Regions from separate parts of the Homo sapiens genome. Here region 2 is linked to region 1. The links come from fine-mapping of genetic effects on gene expression. A gene starts in region 1. The other region holds a variant in brackets. All regions are shown on one strand. Distances are from middle to middle. Region 1 holds the start of PYGL (glycogen phosphorylase L). Region 2 overlaps PYGL (glycogen phosphorylase L).

The links. PIP is the estimated chance that this variant, and not a neighbour inherited with it, causes the effect.
Region 2: its variant is fine-mapped to the expression of PYGL in whole blood (INTERVAL, PIP above 0.99).

What each region holds. Positions count from the first base shown.
Region 1 is chr14:50,940,192-50,949,209 of GRCh38, forward strand. PYGL (glycogen phosphorylase L) reads right to left here and starts at 4,292. Exons shown (of 20, transcript NM_002863.5): 1 at 3,970-4,292. The coding sequence starts at 4,212. It overlaps LOC124903314 (a long non-coding RNA gene), which reads right to left and starts at 2,399. Exons shown (of 2, transcript XR_007064163.1): 1 at 1,918-2,399; 2 at 610-1,014. It overlaps LOC400212 (a long non-coding RNA gene), which reads right to left. Exons shown (of 4, transcript NR_170195.1): 3 at 7,457-7,576; 4 at 6,099-6,273. RefSeq lists an enhancer at 3,120-3,643 and a silencer at 4,312-4,471.
Region 2 is chr14:50,918,674-50,927,691 of GRCh38, forward strand. It overlaps PYGL (glycogen phosphorylase L), which reads right to left. Exons shown (of 20, transcript NM_002863.5): 5 at 5,296-5,427; 6 at 2,283-2,394; 7 at 1,868-1,950. Among named protein-coding and RNA genes, the nearest start is that of PYGL, 21 kb to the right of the region's middle. The variant C/CAA (reference allele first, on the strand shown) is at 5,014.

The DNA of each region.
Region 1 (9,018 bases):
ATACCCATTTGCATAGTATTACCCAGTTTAAAAAAATCCTTCCATGTGTGTATTTTCATTATCTCTATAACCATGATGTTTTGCCTTTTTCTTTTAAGTAATCTACAAAAAGCTTGTTTATATAGTATATATTCCACACTTGCAATTGTGAGGTTATACCCCCAGGAATAATGACTACATCTGTATTAAATTTGCCTCCTTTTTAATGATTCCACATTAGCACGAACTTAAGTCTTCTTAAAAATATTTCAAAGTCTCTCTTGAGAGATATGTGGTTGCTCAGAATAAAGTAAATGAGAAAATACTTCCTTGCATGACAGACTTTATAAGGACAGGAACGTAAGGTGATTCCCTGTTTTCTCACAAATAACTTCTTAGAGGTAATCTCTCCTTATATTTGGGAATATATAAGACTTCAAAAAATAGATCTTGGCCATACTCTTACTTACTGGTCTCTAAATATTTGTTACATATGACTGATAGTAAAATATATGAGCATCTCCAATATACTTTATAAATTACATGCATGTACTATGATTACTAGTATTTTATGTAAAAAGTGGATATTTTCAAAAGGCTTGTAAAATAAAATAAAGAAGATATAACAAATATTTTTAAATTGTATGTTTTATTTTTATCCCCAGCATTAGTCAGAGGGCCTGGGTACTTCCGGGAAGACCTCTGGAACACCTGTCAATAAACCTGAGACTTGCAGGACAGGCAAGAGTTGAGCATAGAAATGTGGTAGGAAGGACACTGCAAGTGAATCGGGGGCCCAGAGTGGGGATTGGTTTGTTGGGAGAGCAAGGTGGGTACAGAGGGTAATGGAAGATAACAAGGGAAGAACAGGCCCACCTGGACTGAGAAGTGCTTTCGAATACTTGCTTAAGTTCTATGGCAGGCAAGAGGAGCCAATGATAATTGAGCAGGGGCAAGATGCGTTGCTTTAGGAAGCTTGAGCAGACCACAATGCACAGAATGAGACGGGATCATATACTCAAATGCCTTCAGGAGCTAGGCAGAGAAAATAAATGTGTAATTGAGGTCACATAAAACAAAGAAGAGTACTGGGCTAAGAAATGGAGTGTGCAAGTCCTGACCACAGGCGCTAAAAATTAAATTCCTGAAAAATGTCTTGGCCAACAAAGTATGTCTGCTATCCTTATTCAGCCTCAGGCTGCCGGTTTTACCACTTCTGGAAAGCAAAATAACCACGTGAAGTCAGCTGCAACAAATGGGTAGCTAGAGCCTCACCAAGGCAGGAAGAGATAATGGAGGAGAGCACGTCATTCAAGGGAACCTATAGAAATCAACAGAAATTGGCAAACAGTTGAACGGCAAAAAGTGAGACTAAAGTTTGCGTCTGGATTGTCAAGATGACAATGGCATGAAAACAAAAAACACAGAGGCCAGTCGTGGTGGCTCATGCCTGTAATCCCAGCACTTTGGGAGGCCGAGGTGGGTGGATCACCAGGTCAGGAGTTCGAGACCAGCCTGTCCAAATGGTGGAATCCTGTCGCTACTAAAAATACAAAAAGTAGCTGGGCATGGTGGCATGCACCTGTAATCCCAGCTACTCAGGAGGCTAAGGCAGGAGAATCACTTGAACCCGAGAGGCAGAGGTTGCAGTGAGCCGAGATTGCATCATTGCACTCCAACATGGGTGACAGAGTGAGACTCTGTCACAAAACAAAACAAAACACGGGAAGATGGGGCAGGATTGGGAGAAATAATGGTTTGAGTTTTTAACGTACTGAGTTTGAGGAAATAGGAAGATATCTAGATATGTTCACTAAACACTCAGAAATGTACGCATAGAGTTAGAAAAGGAATTCAGACTAGGGATCCATATTTGGGATTCATCTGCACAGTTATTGGAGAGCAAGGGAGGTGGGAGAGGAGCTTGGACACACCTACTTGCTCTACTTTATGAGGGCAGGAACCATCCTGTTTAGACAGACGACTGTGATGGAGTAGATATTTGATGAACACGTGTGGAATGAAACATGTTCATTGTTGTATCCCCAGTGTATCGCTATCAGAATTTACACACGTCGGAATTCCTGGCTTATATCTGCACTCACGTAGAAAAGGAGAGCCCAGTGAAGAAACTGGCCGGAGAACCAGGAAAACCATAAAGCACTGCATAAGCCACTGAAGGAAAAACATACAAGATTCTCTGGTGCTCTATGATGCTAAATGCTACAGAGGCGTGAGTGTGTGTTTCTAATATATGCTCAGTGTCCCACCCTTCCGCTTAAAATTGTTAAAAATAATTTTTAATGAGAGGCGCAGTATGGTGTACTTAGTAGCATTCCCTTTGTGTAAATAAATTTTTAAAAGATAGTGGCCGAGTGTGGTGGCTCACACCTGTAATCCCAGCACTTTGGGAGGCCAAGGAAGGAGGATCATTTGAGGCCAGGAGTTTGAGAGCAGCCTGGCCAACATGGTGAAACCTTGTCTCTACTAAAAATACAAACTTAGCCAGGTGTAGTGGTAGGAGCCTGTAGTCCCAGCTACTCGAGAGTCTGAGGCAGGAGAATCGCTTCAACCCTGGAGGCGAAGGATGCAGTGAGCCAAGATGGCGCCGCTGCACTTCATTCAGCCTGGGCGAGAGTGAGACTCTGTCTCAAACAAAACAAAACAAAACAAAACAAAACAAAACAACAAAACAGTAAATATATGTATACATAAAGTGTTTTCTAAGGTGCATTTAAATTTTTAAGGATACATTTTAGCAGTTGCTACCTTGGTGGAGGCCTAGGTCTTTGGGGTGAAGAAGAGTTACTTTCCATTTGAAAACTGTTACAGTTGCAATTTCTTACTATGAGAATTTACATTCATTTCCTTTCTTAAAAATTCCTATGGGGTTTCTTGGGCACTGGGATTATAGACCATTTTTTTTTCTTCACACCTTTACATAATTAAAAAGTTCTAATAAATGTTTATATATATTTCCCACTGCCCCTGGGATGTATCCCAATCTTTTATTCTTTCCAATATGTCTCTACCTGGCTTCTCCAGTTTCCTCTCCCAATACAGACTCACACCCGCCCTCACTCCAGCCTGCACACAATCCCTCTCCCTGCCATGTCCTCCCCAGTCCTTCCCCACTGCCTCTCGCCCTCTTCGCAAACTGTCAGGCAGAGATATTGTCCCTCTGTAGGTCCAAAATCACCCTAAGGAGGTCTCTGCTCCCGCCCCCACGCCGTGGATGGAGGTGGTCCCTGACCAGCCTTCCTCAGCAGCTCTGGGGGCAGGCCTCGGGTGTGGAAGGGCTAAGGGTCGGGGGAGTGTGTGTCTTCGGGGAGGACGAGTCCAGGGCATTGCCTGGCCCTGGGCCGCCTTTGCGAAAGACTCACGGAATTCCAGGAGCTACACCCACTCAGGAGAATGGGTGGGCGGCGCTCTACGCTTGGAGCGGGACCCTGCCCCTCCTCTGCACCACACTTAGCCACTCCCAGAGGCCTGAGACTTACGACCTTTTCCCAGCTCGGCGTTTGTCTCCCCTCCCAAAATACCAAGCTCCAGCAAGGCAAGATTTTTGTCCCTTTTGTTTAGGGCTGAGTGTCCAGGGCAGAGAATAGTGTCCGGCATACAGGACAAGAGGCCCCCGTCACCTCTTGATTAAATGCTGAGAGTCAAAGTTCCAAAAAAGTTTGTGAAGTGGACAGGCGAGAGGGGCCTGGGCTTTTGCCCACCTGGCGGTTTCCAGGGGCGGACGGCACAGTGGTTTGGGCGGGACACTGGCGGGTGGCACCTCGGAGACATGAGTTCGGCGTCTGTTGGGAGGCCTAATCTGTCCCCCAGGCTGCCCGCCCACAGCCTAGACACGTCTCCTCTGGACTTCGGGGCAAGGACCGGGTGCAAGGGACCACTCTGAGGGGTTCTCCACCTCGTCCCGCCCGGCCGCGGCCGGAGACTCCGACTCCGGGCTGGACCCCGGCCCGCCGTCCCGCCCCCGGTTACCTTGGGGCACTTGTCGTAGTAGTGCTGCTGCGTGCGGATCCAGCGCCCCACCAGGTGGTCGCGCACCGTGTGCGCCAGCGCGAAGTAGTAGTCGCGGGTGGTGGCCACGTTGCGGTCCTTGACCAGCGTGAAGTGCAGGTGCCGGTTGAAACTCTTCTTCAGCTCTGCCACGTTCTCCACGCCCACGATGCCGCGGATGCTGATCTGCCGCCGCTTCTCCTGGTCCGTCAGGGGCTTCGCCATGGCTGGGGCGGCGGGCTGCGCGGCGGGCTGCGCAGAGAGCTGGAAGTGCGGCCGGAGGCGCTGGGCTGCCGGGCAGGGGTGGAGTCCGCCCCGCCGCGCCAGCAGCTTTCAACGCGCACGAAAGTTTGGGGCCCGCCCCCTCGGGCGGTGCCGTCCCCGCTGCACTCCCACCGCGTCCCGGCCCCTGCCCCAGGCCGGAGGGCAGAGGAAGTGCCCGGCCCCTCCCGAGGCTCTGGGGCCGCAGTGGGCTCGGGGGTGGGAGACGAGGTCCAAGCGCCGGCGAGACCCCTGCCAGCCCGGGACCTGGGCTCGGAGGCTCCCTTCCGGATTTCCAAAATCTGCGGAGGCAGCATTTGTTCCGCCTCTCCCCTCTAGAGTGTGGAGACAGGAGGACGTCTGTGTAGGGAAGCACGTCGTTGGCAGACTGCTGTTTTGCCGATGTTTATTTGTTATGCCATTATGACTGTTAGGATTTCTCACCTGGAGTGGCTTCCGCCATAAGCGCCGGGATCTGGAAGGACGGCACGTTTGACTTCTGTTGTCCCAACCTCACTTGCCAGCCCTTGGCACCGCCCCAGCTTGGATCCTCAGGGCGCCTCTGTTATTTTCATTCATTTTTTTTGAGGACTCCAGGGTTCAGGTTTCTTAACTCCTGGACCAAAGTTCGCCCCGCTCGTAGCACCCTGTCTCTCATCCTTAGAGGTAGGTTACTAAGAATCAGAGTAGGTGAGGTGAAGCTCTAGGGTCATTATGCGGCAGGGGCTTTTACCTTAGGCTTCTTCGAATTACGTTTTAACTGCAGTGGAGGGTGTGGGGGGAGGAGAGGGAGAAAACAGAAGGGTATGTGTGTGGAAAATGAAGGGATTACTCACTGGACTAGTTGCCTTCTTTACAAAAAACAACCCAGTCTGTGTTACTGTGCGGTACAGGCTGATCTTTGCACCTCCACTTTGGGTGGTATTTGAATATGCGTGTTTATGTGTGCTTAAACCTTGGTAAAGGCAAACACTTGGCATTTTAGGATGTCAGAGGTTTTTTCTTCCTCATTAAGTAGTATTAATATATTATTTTAGAAACAGTCCATTGCCAGAATTAAGTTTTCTTTTTCCTTTTTCTTTTCTTTTTCTTTCTTCTTCTTCTTTTTTTTTTTTTTTTGAGACGGAGTCTCACTCTGTTGCCCAGGCTGGAGTGCAGTGGCGCGATCTCGGCTCACTGCAAGCTCCGCCTCCCGGGTTCACGCCATTCTCCTGCTTCAGCCTCCTGAATAGCTGGGACTACAGGCGCCCGCCACCTCGCATTTTTTATTTTTTATTTTTTTATTTTTAGTAGAGACAGGGTTTCACCATGTTAGCCAGGATGGTCTCTATCTCCTGACCTCGTGATCTGCCCGCCTCGGCCTCCCAAAGGGCTGGGATTACAGGCGTGAGCCACCGCGCCCGGCCAATAGTCACATATATTCTTCTAAGTTTATTTGTTTGTTGTTTTTTGAGACAGGGTCTCACTCTGTTACCCAGGCAGAGTGCAGTGGCGCGATCTGGGCTCACTGCAAGCTCCGCCTCCCGGGTTCACGCCATTCTCCCGCCTCAGCCTCCCGAGTAGCTGGGACTACAGGCGCCCGCCACCACGCCCGGCTAATTTTTTGTATTTTTAGTACAGATGGGGTTTCACCGTGTTAGCCAGGATGGTCTCGATCTCCTGACCTTGTGATCCGCCCTCCTCGGTCTCCCAAAGTGCTGGGATTACAGGCGTGAGCCACCGCGCCCGGCCAAGTTTTCTAGAAAAATCTTAGTATACTTATATTAATATATTTTGTTTTTTATAATAAACCCAAGTTGATTATTTTGAATTCACACATGGTGGTGGTGGGGGGGGGGGGGGGGGCGGGTAATGGATTAATTGATTCAGACCAAATGTGACCCTCACCATAAAAGTGAAAGTTCAAAGCTCATAGTTCTGACAAAATTTCCTGAATCCTTGTCCTCCCAGATTCTGAAGTTTGGACTTGAGCTTTTGGGGCAGAGACTGAATTGGGCCTTATGCAACTCTTGCAATACCGATGACCTGCAAAGGACAGTATGGAAGAGATGAGCATTAGAGTTTGGATCCGGATGGGGCCAGAAATACCCTGAATTAAGAGTGGGAAGGGGGGGCCCATCAAAATCATTGATCTTAAAAATAAGTAAGGCCTGTGGGGTGAAATTTGAAATAAAGCAGAAAGATAAGCTTCTTTGATTATTATATAACTTAAAAAAGTGTTTATCAGCTTTGAATACCCCCAAGATGGTCACAGCATTAAGCCAGTTATGGGTCATTCGTACATAAGTGTGAAATTAGTCACTCAGCTTTAACAGCTGGATGAAAAATAGGGTAGAGCCTAGGATGAGGGAATACCAGGTCTGAGTAGGTCTTCCTCCCAGAAAGGTCTCTGAGCAGGAGAAGGCATCATAATGTCTGGGCATTGGGGAGTGAATAATTAGGGGGCACACAAGAAGGGATGAAAGACACCAAAAGCAAGCTTACTCGGTTTCTTAGTTTTGCTTAAGACAGTTTCAAATAGATGGCTCCCAGCTCCGCTGTCTACTTTCCTGTACTAAATTCTTGTTGGAAACTCAGGGTAATGATGAACTAATGAACACACTATTTTCTTGATTCACTATCCAGTCGGTGAGCCTGCACCCCCGGCTTGAACAATTCTCTATGCAGAAAAATCATGAACTATAGAATGCTCAATATATAGAGTATGGGGAAAAACTATCCATCTCCATGTTAAAAAGAACGTGATGGAACCAGGTGATTTAGGGTGTTCCATAGACCCAGTCTTAAACGACAATGAATTACATTGCAAGACAGTTATTCCCCTTTCACTTTTCTTTAAGTCTTTCTGGAAAGTCCTTTGTGTTAACATGTTAGCATTTTTTAATCTATATTTTTAACAGAATGCAGGTACAGACTCTAAAAGTTCTTGAAGTTTTAGCATCTAACTAGAATTTAATACAATTATCTTCCATTTATGGTAAATGATACTTTTTCAGTTGACATTCTGATATAAACTTTGTTTCATCTGCTTGTTCTGTGCTAGTCTAGGACACTGAGGCCTTGAGAGGTTAAGTTACTTGACTAAGAAAATTAATATCTTTAAAAACCTTTCCTTTAGCCTCTCTTGACCAGAAAGAACCAGAAACTATGGATCCCTGAAAAAGTATCAGATTTCAGTGGCTCACATGTTTATAGCAGCCTTACTCACAATGGCCTATATTATTCCTGCTTCTCATCCACTGCTTCCCCGTGGCTGCTGTAACGAAATGGCGTTTGTAAGTAGCTGAACAAACAGTCCAGAACTCATAGGACAAGTGTAAGTTTCCCACTGTTGGAAATACAAAAAAACATGAGAAAGTAGTGTGTTAGTTCGGGTCTTCAGAGAAGCAGAAGCTAAAACAGGATTAAACATGTTAAGATTTTTTACTGGGGTAAATGCTTGTGGGAGGGAAAAACGGGGAGTGCTAGCCAGAGAGAGCATCAGACTGTGATGCCAGTGTGACCTAGAGTGAAGGGGAGAGAGAGGGAAGGGTAGAAGGGCATATCTCAGACAGCCCTGTAGTCCCAGGAAGATCCAGCAGTGCTGCTGGGCAGTTCTGGAGGGCATCTGCTGTCAGGAGTCCACGGTACTCTGCTCGGTCATTGGTGGGATCATCCTCCCGGAGGCATGGCCTCTGCAGGGCTATCTGGAGCCCTGGGTCGGTTATGCTTCCTGCAGCTTGGGGCATCTATGAGGTCCTTTCTAGTGACCACCACAGAAAGATATGAGATAAACAAATACAGATTAATACCCACTATGTTTCAAAGCAGGGCCTATTGTGGTGGCATACCACTTTCAGATTATCAAAACGGCAACTAGCATTTTCCAAGGACTCTGGCAAGGCCCATAATGTGCATTACTCATTTAATCTTCTCATCAGCTCTGTGGGACAAGTTCTGTTTTTCTTTCCATTTCACAGATGAGGAAATCGAGGCTTAGAGAAGGTGAGTAGCTTGCTCAAGATCACCTCACCAGTAAGTGATGGAAGAGGTTTTCAAATCCCTTAATGTTGTTTCTCCTCCCCTGAAACAGGATTTGTGATCTGTTAAGTAAACCTGAATTCTGACTGCATCTCAGCTAACCTATTACCCTACTCACTTGTTTTGTTTTGTTTGTTTTTTTTTGAGGCGGAATCTCGCTCTTGTCACCCAGGCTGGAGTGCAATGGCGCCATCTTGGCTCAGTGCAACTTTTGCCTCCCAGGTTCAAGTGATTCTCCTGCCCCACCCTCTTGAATAGCTGGGATTACAGACGTGCGCCACCATGCCTGGCTAGATTTTGTATTTTTAGTAGAGAGGGGGGTTTCACCATGCTGGTCAGGCTGGTCTCAGACTCCTGACCTCAGGTAATTCACCCGTCTCGGCCTCCCAAAGTACTGGGATTATAGGCGTGAGCCACCGCGCCCGGCCTGTTTTGTACTGTTTATTGGTTTTTGACCATCTTCTAATCAGTTCTGCAATCTAGGGAAATGCCAGAGGTCCACAGTGGCCCCACAGACAGGTCACTAACACTCTGGAAAGGGGTGGTGTAAACCATGGGCTGAGCTTTATGCTCAATGAGGGAATTTGAGTACACTGCACTCAGCATATTTAATGTATGAATCTGTTAACCAAGGTTGTTATCCAGGCTCCGCTGTTTCAAATATTTAGAAAGATGACTGAGGGCCAGGTGCGGTGGCTCACACCTGTAATCCCAGCACTTTGGGAGGCCGAGGTGGGTGGATCACGAGGT
Region 2 (9,018 bases), 22 kb before region 1:
GGATAAAAGACAATTTATTGGGTGTACACTGCTCAGGTGACAGGTGCGTAAAATCTCAGAAATTACCACTAAAGAACTTATCCATGTAACCAAAACTACCTGTACCCCTAAAACTATTAAAATTAAAAATTTTAAAATGATGAGCACCCCATCCCCCAAATGTAAGCCTTGGACCAGAGTCTTATTAAAACTAATGAATATGAGCATAGAGGTCTGCATATAGAATATCTGGGGCTCTGAACTCCCTAATACTTAAAAGTATAATCACTGACCTATGCCAGGGCTATGGCCAAGTTGAGGAGAAGAATGAATTTGTTATTGTAATTACAGTATAAAAGGATTTTTCAGCTTACTCTTAAAAACAAACAAACAAACAAACAAACAAAAACATGATCCTGAGAACTCCCTTTTACCCAACAAATCTAGTCAATTTTTTACCCCATGCTAACTTAGTATATATTGTCAGTTACTGCAGACGATTATTTCCCAGTAAAATTAGTTTTGGTCCTTACTGAAGACAGGAGGATGAATTTCAAGCCCCTGCAGACTGGGTTTAGGTTGGCAGTACGGTCCCAGACTTGGAAGAACTCTTACTTTGACCCTGACATAGAATAACTTTTTGCTTTTGGGTTAGAGATTTCTCTGAAATGTACTGAAGCCACAATGTTTTCCACAAAGGAATAATAGCATATACCATTAGGTTCCTAAAAATGCTCCAGCAAAATCCACATAATCATCTTCCTTTCTGAGAGATTATGATTTAACACCAGGTGGACATCTGGTATTAAGGACTATTTATGTCCTAGTCCCCCCAAGATCCTTGTCTTCTGCCATCTTTGTAAAGCAGAGTGCTAATTTTATTGCTTCTGAGACCACTTTAAAAAAATCATTACAGCTTCATGAAAATGATTTTACCCATAGAGAAGTTTAGAGTTACATATATTTAAAACAACCAAGAATCAATAGCAGTTATCTGAGATCCAGTTCCAAGTGGTGTGTGTGTGTGTGTGTGTGTGTGTGTGTGTTTTGAGAGAGTCTCACTCTGTCACCTAGGCTGGAATGCAGTGGTGCAATCTCGGCTCACTGCAATCTCTGTCTCCCAGGCTCAAGCGATTTTCCTGCCTCAGCCTCTCCAGTAGCTGGGATTACAGGCGCCTACCATCACACCTGGCTAATTTTTTTGTATTTTTAGTAGGGACAGGGTTTCGTCATGTTGGCCAGGCTGGTCTCGAACTTCTGGCCTCAAATGATTTGCCCGCCTCAGACTCCCAAAGTGCTGGGATTACAGGCATGAGCCATTGCACCTGGCCCCAAGTGTTTTTTTTTTTTAACTAAGCTATATTTACAATAAAATTAGAATAATTGACTATAAGAAAAAGATACAAGTCAGTGGCAGAAGAAACAGATGTTTGTTCATGGGTCTGCCCCAGGGTCTCTAACTCCATCTAGCATCAGGGCAGAGGACCAGAAAGAGCCTAGTCAGTGAGAGAAGAGGCGAGGCAGAAAATATTCAGTGACTTCTGACTTTGCAGATAAAATTTCTATCTGGAAAGGAGGCAGTGCTTCACCAGTGATTTACTTCATCTCTTATATCCAGGTTTTGTTTTAAAATACATCTCAATAACTTCCCAATTAGTGATGGGGTCACTAATCAAGGGCAAAATACCAATTCTGATTTCATGCACTATACAGATTTGTTTTCCTTACTTGGTTGGGAGGAGAAATCTACACAATTCAGGAAGAAATACGGAGCTTGTTCTGCACATGGAAAAACATCAATATTAAATGTGTTTTATAGGTTACTGAACAGGCTCTTGTGAAATAAGCTGCCTCTGTTGCCACTAAGAAAGCAACCTTGATCACTCACATTGTCATTGGGATAGAGGACCCGGGAGATGTTCTCGGCCAGGTTTCGGTCCAGCACAGCCTGAATGTAGTCTCCAACATTAACTAGGGGAAAGTTAGAGAAACAATAAATAGAGAAACCAGCCATTGTTGTTGGAAACCTCTTGATCTCACTGGCTCTGTGCTGTGTGTCATGTGGGATTCCTAAAATTCCTAAAAATCCCAAAGGATTTCAACACACCGTCATGCTGGACTTCACATGAGAATTGCTTTAAAAATGCCCTCCCTACTTCCTCCATACAATGCCTGCTTAGTCAGTGAAGTTCAGATCAGAAACTCAAGGCTTTTTTGTTTGTTTCAAGCTCAATTTGGTTCTAACTACCAATCAAAAAGATTAAGCACACGCATAAAGAAACCAAGGCCTGTGCTGTACTCACAGTCTCTGAGGTTAAAGTCATTTGGTGCCCGAGCAGACCAGAGGCGCATGGTGTTGACAGTGTTATTCATGTAGCCGGGCACGGGGGTGTCATATGGCAGAGCCAGGACCACCTGTGGGATTAAACAGAAGCAGCTGCTCATTGTTTCCCAAGTGTGATGACATAGGTTGAACAAGGGGCTGGGAGACTGCAATGGAATTCTATTCCTGGCTCCATTACCAACTTAAATTGTGTGAGGCCTAAATGGAGAAGAGGGTCTCAGGGCTGCAGAGGGTATTAGAGGAACATGTGGTTCCTCCCCGACCTGGTACAATCTAGTGACTGAAACCATCCACACTGATGGTCCTTTACAGTATTTCTATGTTGACTCTCCATGTGCCCTTGCCCTGATATAAATGCAGTGGAATGGAATGATATGGTATTTGTATTCAAAAAAGTTTATCTTTTTTTTTTTTTGAGACGGAGTCTCACTCTGTTGCCCAGGCTGGAGTGCAGTGGTGCAATCTCGGCTCACTGCAAGTTCACACCATTCTCCTGCCTCAGCCTCCCGAGTAGCTGGGACTACAGGTGCCCGCCACCATGCCCGGCTAATTTTTTTGTATTTTTAGTAGAGACGAGGTTTCACCGTGTTAGCCAGGATGGTTTCGATCTCCTGACCTCGTGATCCATCCACCTCGGCCTCCCAAAGTGCTGGGATTACAGGCGTGAGCCACTGCACCCAGCCAAAAAAGTTTATCTTTCATGTTTCAGATAAAGCCATTGCTCTAATAATAATAAAATATGATATGCAAACAAAGTGACATTGTGAATCTGTACCCACCAAAAAATAGCACTTAGAATATGTTTTGCATAGGTTTTTCAGTGATCTGATTTCAAGTATGATGAAAGTAAATGGAATAGGAAATTTATGAAGCTATAACATCTCATATAATATTTAAAATGCTATGCTAGATTTTTAAAGTTGCATAAGGAGTTATTTTAGTGATTCCTACAGTGATCTGCCAAATCAGCTGATAATTAGCTGAGTTGAGTCTAAGAGGTAAGCTTTGGAAAATCTAGCTTGATCTTTGTGACAGTCACTGAAATAGAGAAGAGGAAGATTAACTATGTTTCACAGTGCATCGAAAATTCAAGTGAGAAATCATTCATTTTTATTCCCGGCCTCATCAGAGTCAAGCTCGAAGGAAGGAGAATGACAGAATAATTGAACTGGAGGATGCTGGATCTCATTTAGTGCAACCCACTTATTTTGGACATGAGGGAGCTGAAGCTGAGAGAGAAGTGACTTGCCCAAGATCACAGTCATGGCAGGATTGAAACTTAAACACGCATCTCTTTAATTTGGTCTGCTGAATTGTGAATGAATGAAGCATTATGGCCCATATCAATCACATATACTCAGTCATACTTTCGTGATCACCGCGACCTCAAAGTAATAAATCACCCTCATTTAAATATCTTTCATTAAGAGATAAAAGTCTCTGGACTTTTAAAGCAAGTTGTAATCAATCAGGGAAAGTCATTTGCAGGCTGGGATTGAGTCTCGGTTCAAACAAGAGTTGGACCCTTCTGACCCTTGAAGCATAATTAAGGCAGCCCAAGAAGTGCACAGCTTAGATCTTCTTTCAGAGAACCTCAAAGAGGACTTGCTCCCTCAGAGCTCACACCAAAGCTGCGCTCTCTGGGACACTCCATGTGGCTGGGACACTAGGGCCGAGACTTCTCTAATGGGCAATCTTTAGTGTCAGGCTCCATCAGCCTGGCCACTTGCTCAGAGTGGCACTGTGGTCTGAGGCTCTCCCTGAGAATGCTGCTTCTTTCCCCTTCACTTTTCACAGGTGGCACACCTGTGTCACAGTCTGAAGCCTTCCCACCTCATCCTGCTCCCTCTCCCCTTTGTCTTTCATAGGCATCCCCCAATATGTCACTTGCACTTCTCATTCTCTCTGGTGTCTGTTTCCTAGAGGACCTAAACTGACACGTGACTGTGTCATTTGACTTTATTGGAAGCCATCCCATGCACGCACAGAGCACATCTGGACTCATGCTCTGACATCACTGGGTACCAGTTTGGGGTTAATTCATGTGATGACTTCAATCTATGAGGCTAAGTTGCATGGCTTGGGCCAGCTCACTTATATTACCTCTGCCCCCTAACCTTGCCTCTGTTGGCCCAGAAACACACACTCTCTCTAATTGAATTTCTGGATACATTATGACAGTATCTAGAGGTGTTTTGTAAATGCAAGTTAGCTCAGCAGTGGGACCCACAGTGTAAATAAAATGCTTCCAGGATTGATTGTGTAAACTGCAAACTTTTATTTTTATTTTATTTTATTTTATTTTTTTTGAGACAGAGTCTCACTCTGTTACCCAGGCTGGAGTGCAGCGACATGATCTCAGCTCACTGCAACCTCCACCTCCTAGGTTCAAGCGATTCTCCTGCCTCAGCCTCCCATGTAGCTGGGACTATAGGCATGGGCCACCACTCCTGGCTAATTTTCGTATTTTTAGTACAGATAGGGATTCACCATGTTGGCCAGGCTGGTCTTGAACTCCTGACCTCAGGTGATCTGCCCGCTTCGGCTTCCCAAAGTGCTGGGATTACAGTTGTGAGCCACTGCACCCAGCCAGGAATGACATTTCAAATTATTCAATTTTGCTATCAACACCTTAATATAAAACCAAAGAGGTAAGCATGCTGGTTACTATAGAACTGACAATTTTCTGG[C/CAA]AAAAAAAAAAAAAAAAAAAAAAGAACTGACAATTTTCTGACAAAGCTGGTTGCAAAATGACCCTTATAAAAGTCACTCCTCTCTTGGCCTCAGCTCCTTTGTCTCCAAAATGACTGGGCTGCGCTAAGAGAAGTAACAGATTTATTTACAAAAATATATTCTATTATTCAAAACACGACATGCCCTATACTCAATATCACCACTATATGCTACATAGTCAATGTATTATCTACTGTACTAAATACTATACAAAACGCTGGCTATACGAGCACTCTGAATACTTGAGTGTCAATCCACTTGGTCCCGGTGTTGGTGTGTTCTACTTTTCCATAGAAGTGCACAGGCAGCATGAATTCTGGGCGGGACTTCTCCCAAGGGTTTCCATATCTGAGCCAATCATCTGCTTCTTCTACCTGCAAAAGGATACAGTATTGCTTAGAATTTATTTGTCAGGAAATATGAACCTAGCACTTCAATTATATTATATTAAATTTAAAACATCTTTAACTGAAACAACTTATGAATACTGAGTACTGTTTTGTAACTTTTTTACAGCCTACATCAACAATAATACTCGCTAATACAGCTCTAAATATTTTATATGTATTACTGCATTTAATCCTCTTTTAAAGATGAGGAATTGTAACTGCTCAAGGTCAAATAGTAAACGGTAGAGATAAGATCTCAAGGTCAAACAGTAAACGATAGAGATAAGATCTGCCCTTAGGTCTCTGTGTTCCAGAGCCTCTGTCTTAACGTCTGTGAATCCAATTGTCCAGCTTCAGCTAAAGACAGACGCCTTACAGGGATGTTTATCGTTGGATACCTGGGCCTGTTGAGTCCTACACAAAGGGTTCAGTCAAGATTCTTGTGGCTAGAATATACAGAATCAGTTAGAAAATGCTACTTACAGAACACTCTTTTAATCAAGCTTATTGGTATAGGTACAGAACATTATTGCATTATGTAGTCTTTGCTTATCTCAATCCTTATGTAATTTTGATTTGATAATGAACTATAGATTATAGTTTATTTTGAAAATAACATATTCCAAGAGGTAATGAACTTATTTTATTGACAATTTCAATATTTTCCTAGGTATTTATGTCAATTTATAACAAAATATTTCTTATATACGATTTTAAACTATGGTTTCTATTTAGGATATCCTGGACATCAAATACATTTTCATTTGCAACAAACAAACAAACACATCAAAATAAGAACACCACCACCACCAAACACATTGGAGGGGGATGTATTTTTAAATTATTGAAACCTTTAAAATATGACACATACAGTTGTGGATTGCTTAACGACAGGGATACATTCTGAAAAATGTGTTCTTAAGCAACGTTGTCATTGTGCAAACATCACAGAGTGCACTTACACAAACCCAGATGGTGCTGCCTACTACACACCTGAGCTATATGGTATGGCCTCCTGCTCCTAGACTACAAACCTGTACAGCACGTTACTGTGCTGAATACTATAGGTAATGGTAACACGATGGTGTTTGTATATCTAAACATAGAAATAGTACAGTAAAAATTCAGTATAAAACATAAGAAATGGTACACCCACAGGGGGCAGCTCCATTACCATCTTATGGGACCACTATTGCATATGTGTTGTATTGTTGACTGAAATGTCATTATGTGGTGCATGACTATACATTAAAAAATGGAATTGTGTTCTGGCCAGAAGGGGGTAAACAAAGCAGCTTTGTCAATGAGATAATCTCCAATATGGTTATTTTACCTATTTGATACCTCATATTCACCTCTTAGAAAACTCAGCTTTAGTTTTAGAAGATACTGCTTAAGAATTACAACACAATGTTGGACATCTCATGATCACCTAAACATGAGTGTAATGCCTGTCTCAGGAACAGTGTGAAGAGACAAAAATAAACACAGCCACTATCTTTTGAGAATTTAGACTAACCATTATTGTCAACAGCCAGAGAAATGAATACAAGTTCACTTATTCAAATTTTGATAGTGTTGTTTATCAAGAAAGCCAGTAAGCTTCCCACTAATATTAACTACCAGTGTAATGATGAATGGAAATGGGACTCATAGCAACAACATCTTTAGTTGGAAGAGCTAGGAGTTAGAGAGCCACTGGAGGAAGGAGGAGGTATCAGATGCAAGATGAACCCTAGGGAAGGCTGGAGAGAGATCTGAGCTCGTCAGAAAGTCACATCTTCTTAAAATGCAGATTCTCAGTAGGTCTGGGGAGGGGCCTGAAATTCTGCATTCCTAATAAGCTCCCAGGGGCTCCTGATTCTACTGGTCCCTGAACCCCACAAAGAGCAGCCAAGAGCTACAAGGCAATGCAAAGTCAATAACTGTAATCTGTAATTCAGAATTAAAAACTAAACTTCCGCTATCCCAGTCATAAGAGAACAAAGATAAAATTTTTTTGAGGCAGGAAGGTCACTTGATCCCAGGAGTTTGAGAGCAGCCTGGGCAACATAGTGAGAACCTATCTCTAAAAAAAATTTAAAAATTAGCCGAGTGTGGTGGTGTGCACCTGTAGTCCCAGCTACTCAGGAAGCTGAGGTGGGAGGATTGCTTGAGCCCGGGAGGTCAGGGCTACAGTGAGCTGTGATCATGCCACTGTACTCCACCCTGGGTGACAGAGTGAGACTCCATCTCAAAAAATAAAGTAAAATAAAATAAAATAAAATTTTAATAAAGAAACAGTTGAAGTTTGCCAGTTGTCAAGAAGCTTGTTAAAGAGTCCATTAACTTGGCCAGGCGTGGTGGCAACGCCTGTAATCCCAGCACTTTGGGAGGCCGAGGTGGGCTGATCATGAGGTCAGGAGTTTGAGACCAGCCTGGCCAACATGGTGAAACCCCGTCTCTACTAAAAATATGAAAATTAGCCGGGCATGGTGGCGGGCACCTGTAATCCCAGCTACTCAGGAGGCTGAGGCAAAAGAATCACTTGAACCTGGGAGGCAGAGGTTGCAGAGAGCAGAGATTGTGCCACTGCACTCCAGCCTGGGAGACAGAGTGAGACTCTGTCTCAAAAAAAAAAAAAAAAAAAAAAAAAAAAGAAAAAGTCCATTAACTTGGGTTCATAACTAGAAATGCTATAATAAATAAAATGATGACATCAACAAAGGATCAAAACATCTTGACTTACAAAATACTTTATGCTGCACTTAGGCAAGGGCCAATTTTGGGTTTTAAAATACTGAGCAATGTGAACACTGCTTCCTGTAACAGGAAAGAACCATAGGCCTGTTTGCCTCATTTCAGCATGCAGGGCTGTTGTAAAACCCATCTGAAGGTATTGTATGAAATAGGAAGACGATGAGGCAGAAACAGTTTTCCTCTGAAAACTCATGACCATGGGAGAACTGATGACATATTTTTTTGCTGAGAAATGCAGCAGGATGATATACTGTCCTGCCCCCAAGAAGCCTGAAATGCTCAGATAAGAGAGGATGGGCACTGAACTTCCTCCTGTGGGCTCAGTCCCTGACTCCTGTGGAAGTCAGAGGTTGCATTTACTCTTTTTATTTTTATTTTCATTTTCTTTGAGACACAGTTTTGCTCTGTCGCCCAGGCTGGAGTCCAGTGGCACAATCTTGGCTCACTGCAACATATGCCTCCCAGATTCAAGTGATTCTCCTGCCTCAGCCTCCCAAGTACCTGGGATTACAGGTGCCCGCCACCACACACAACTAATTTTTGTATTTTTAGTAGAGACGGGGTTTCACCATGTTGACCAGGCTGATCTTGAACTCCTGACCTCAAGTGATCTGCCTGCCTCGGCCTCCTAAAGTGCTGGGATTACAGGCGTGAGCCACCACGATAAGCCACATTTGCTCTTTTGAGGGTACACTCTTACATGAGATTCTTAATGCCATCAAATGTTGGTTGAATTTTTTTCCTGCCAAGTAAATGATTGGTTTTAGCTTCATGGGGCTAACAACTCGTAGGAGAGTTTATTTGCTTGCTGTTCTTTATTGTGAATCTCCCGCTGAT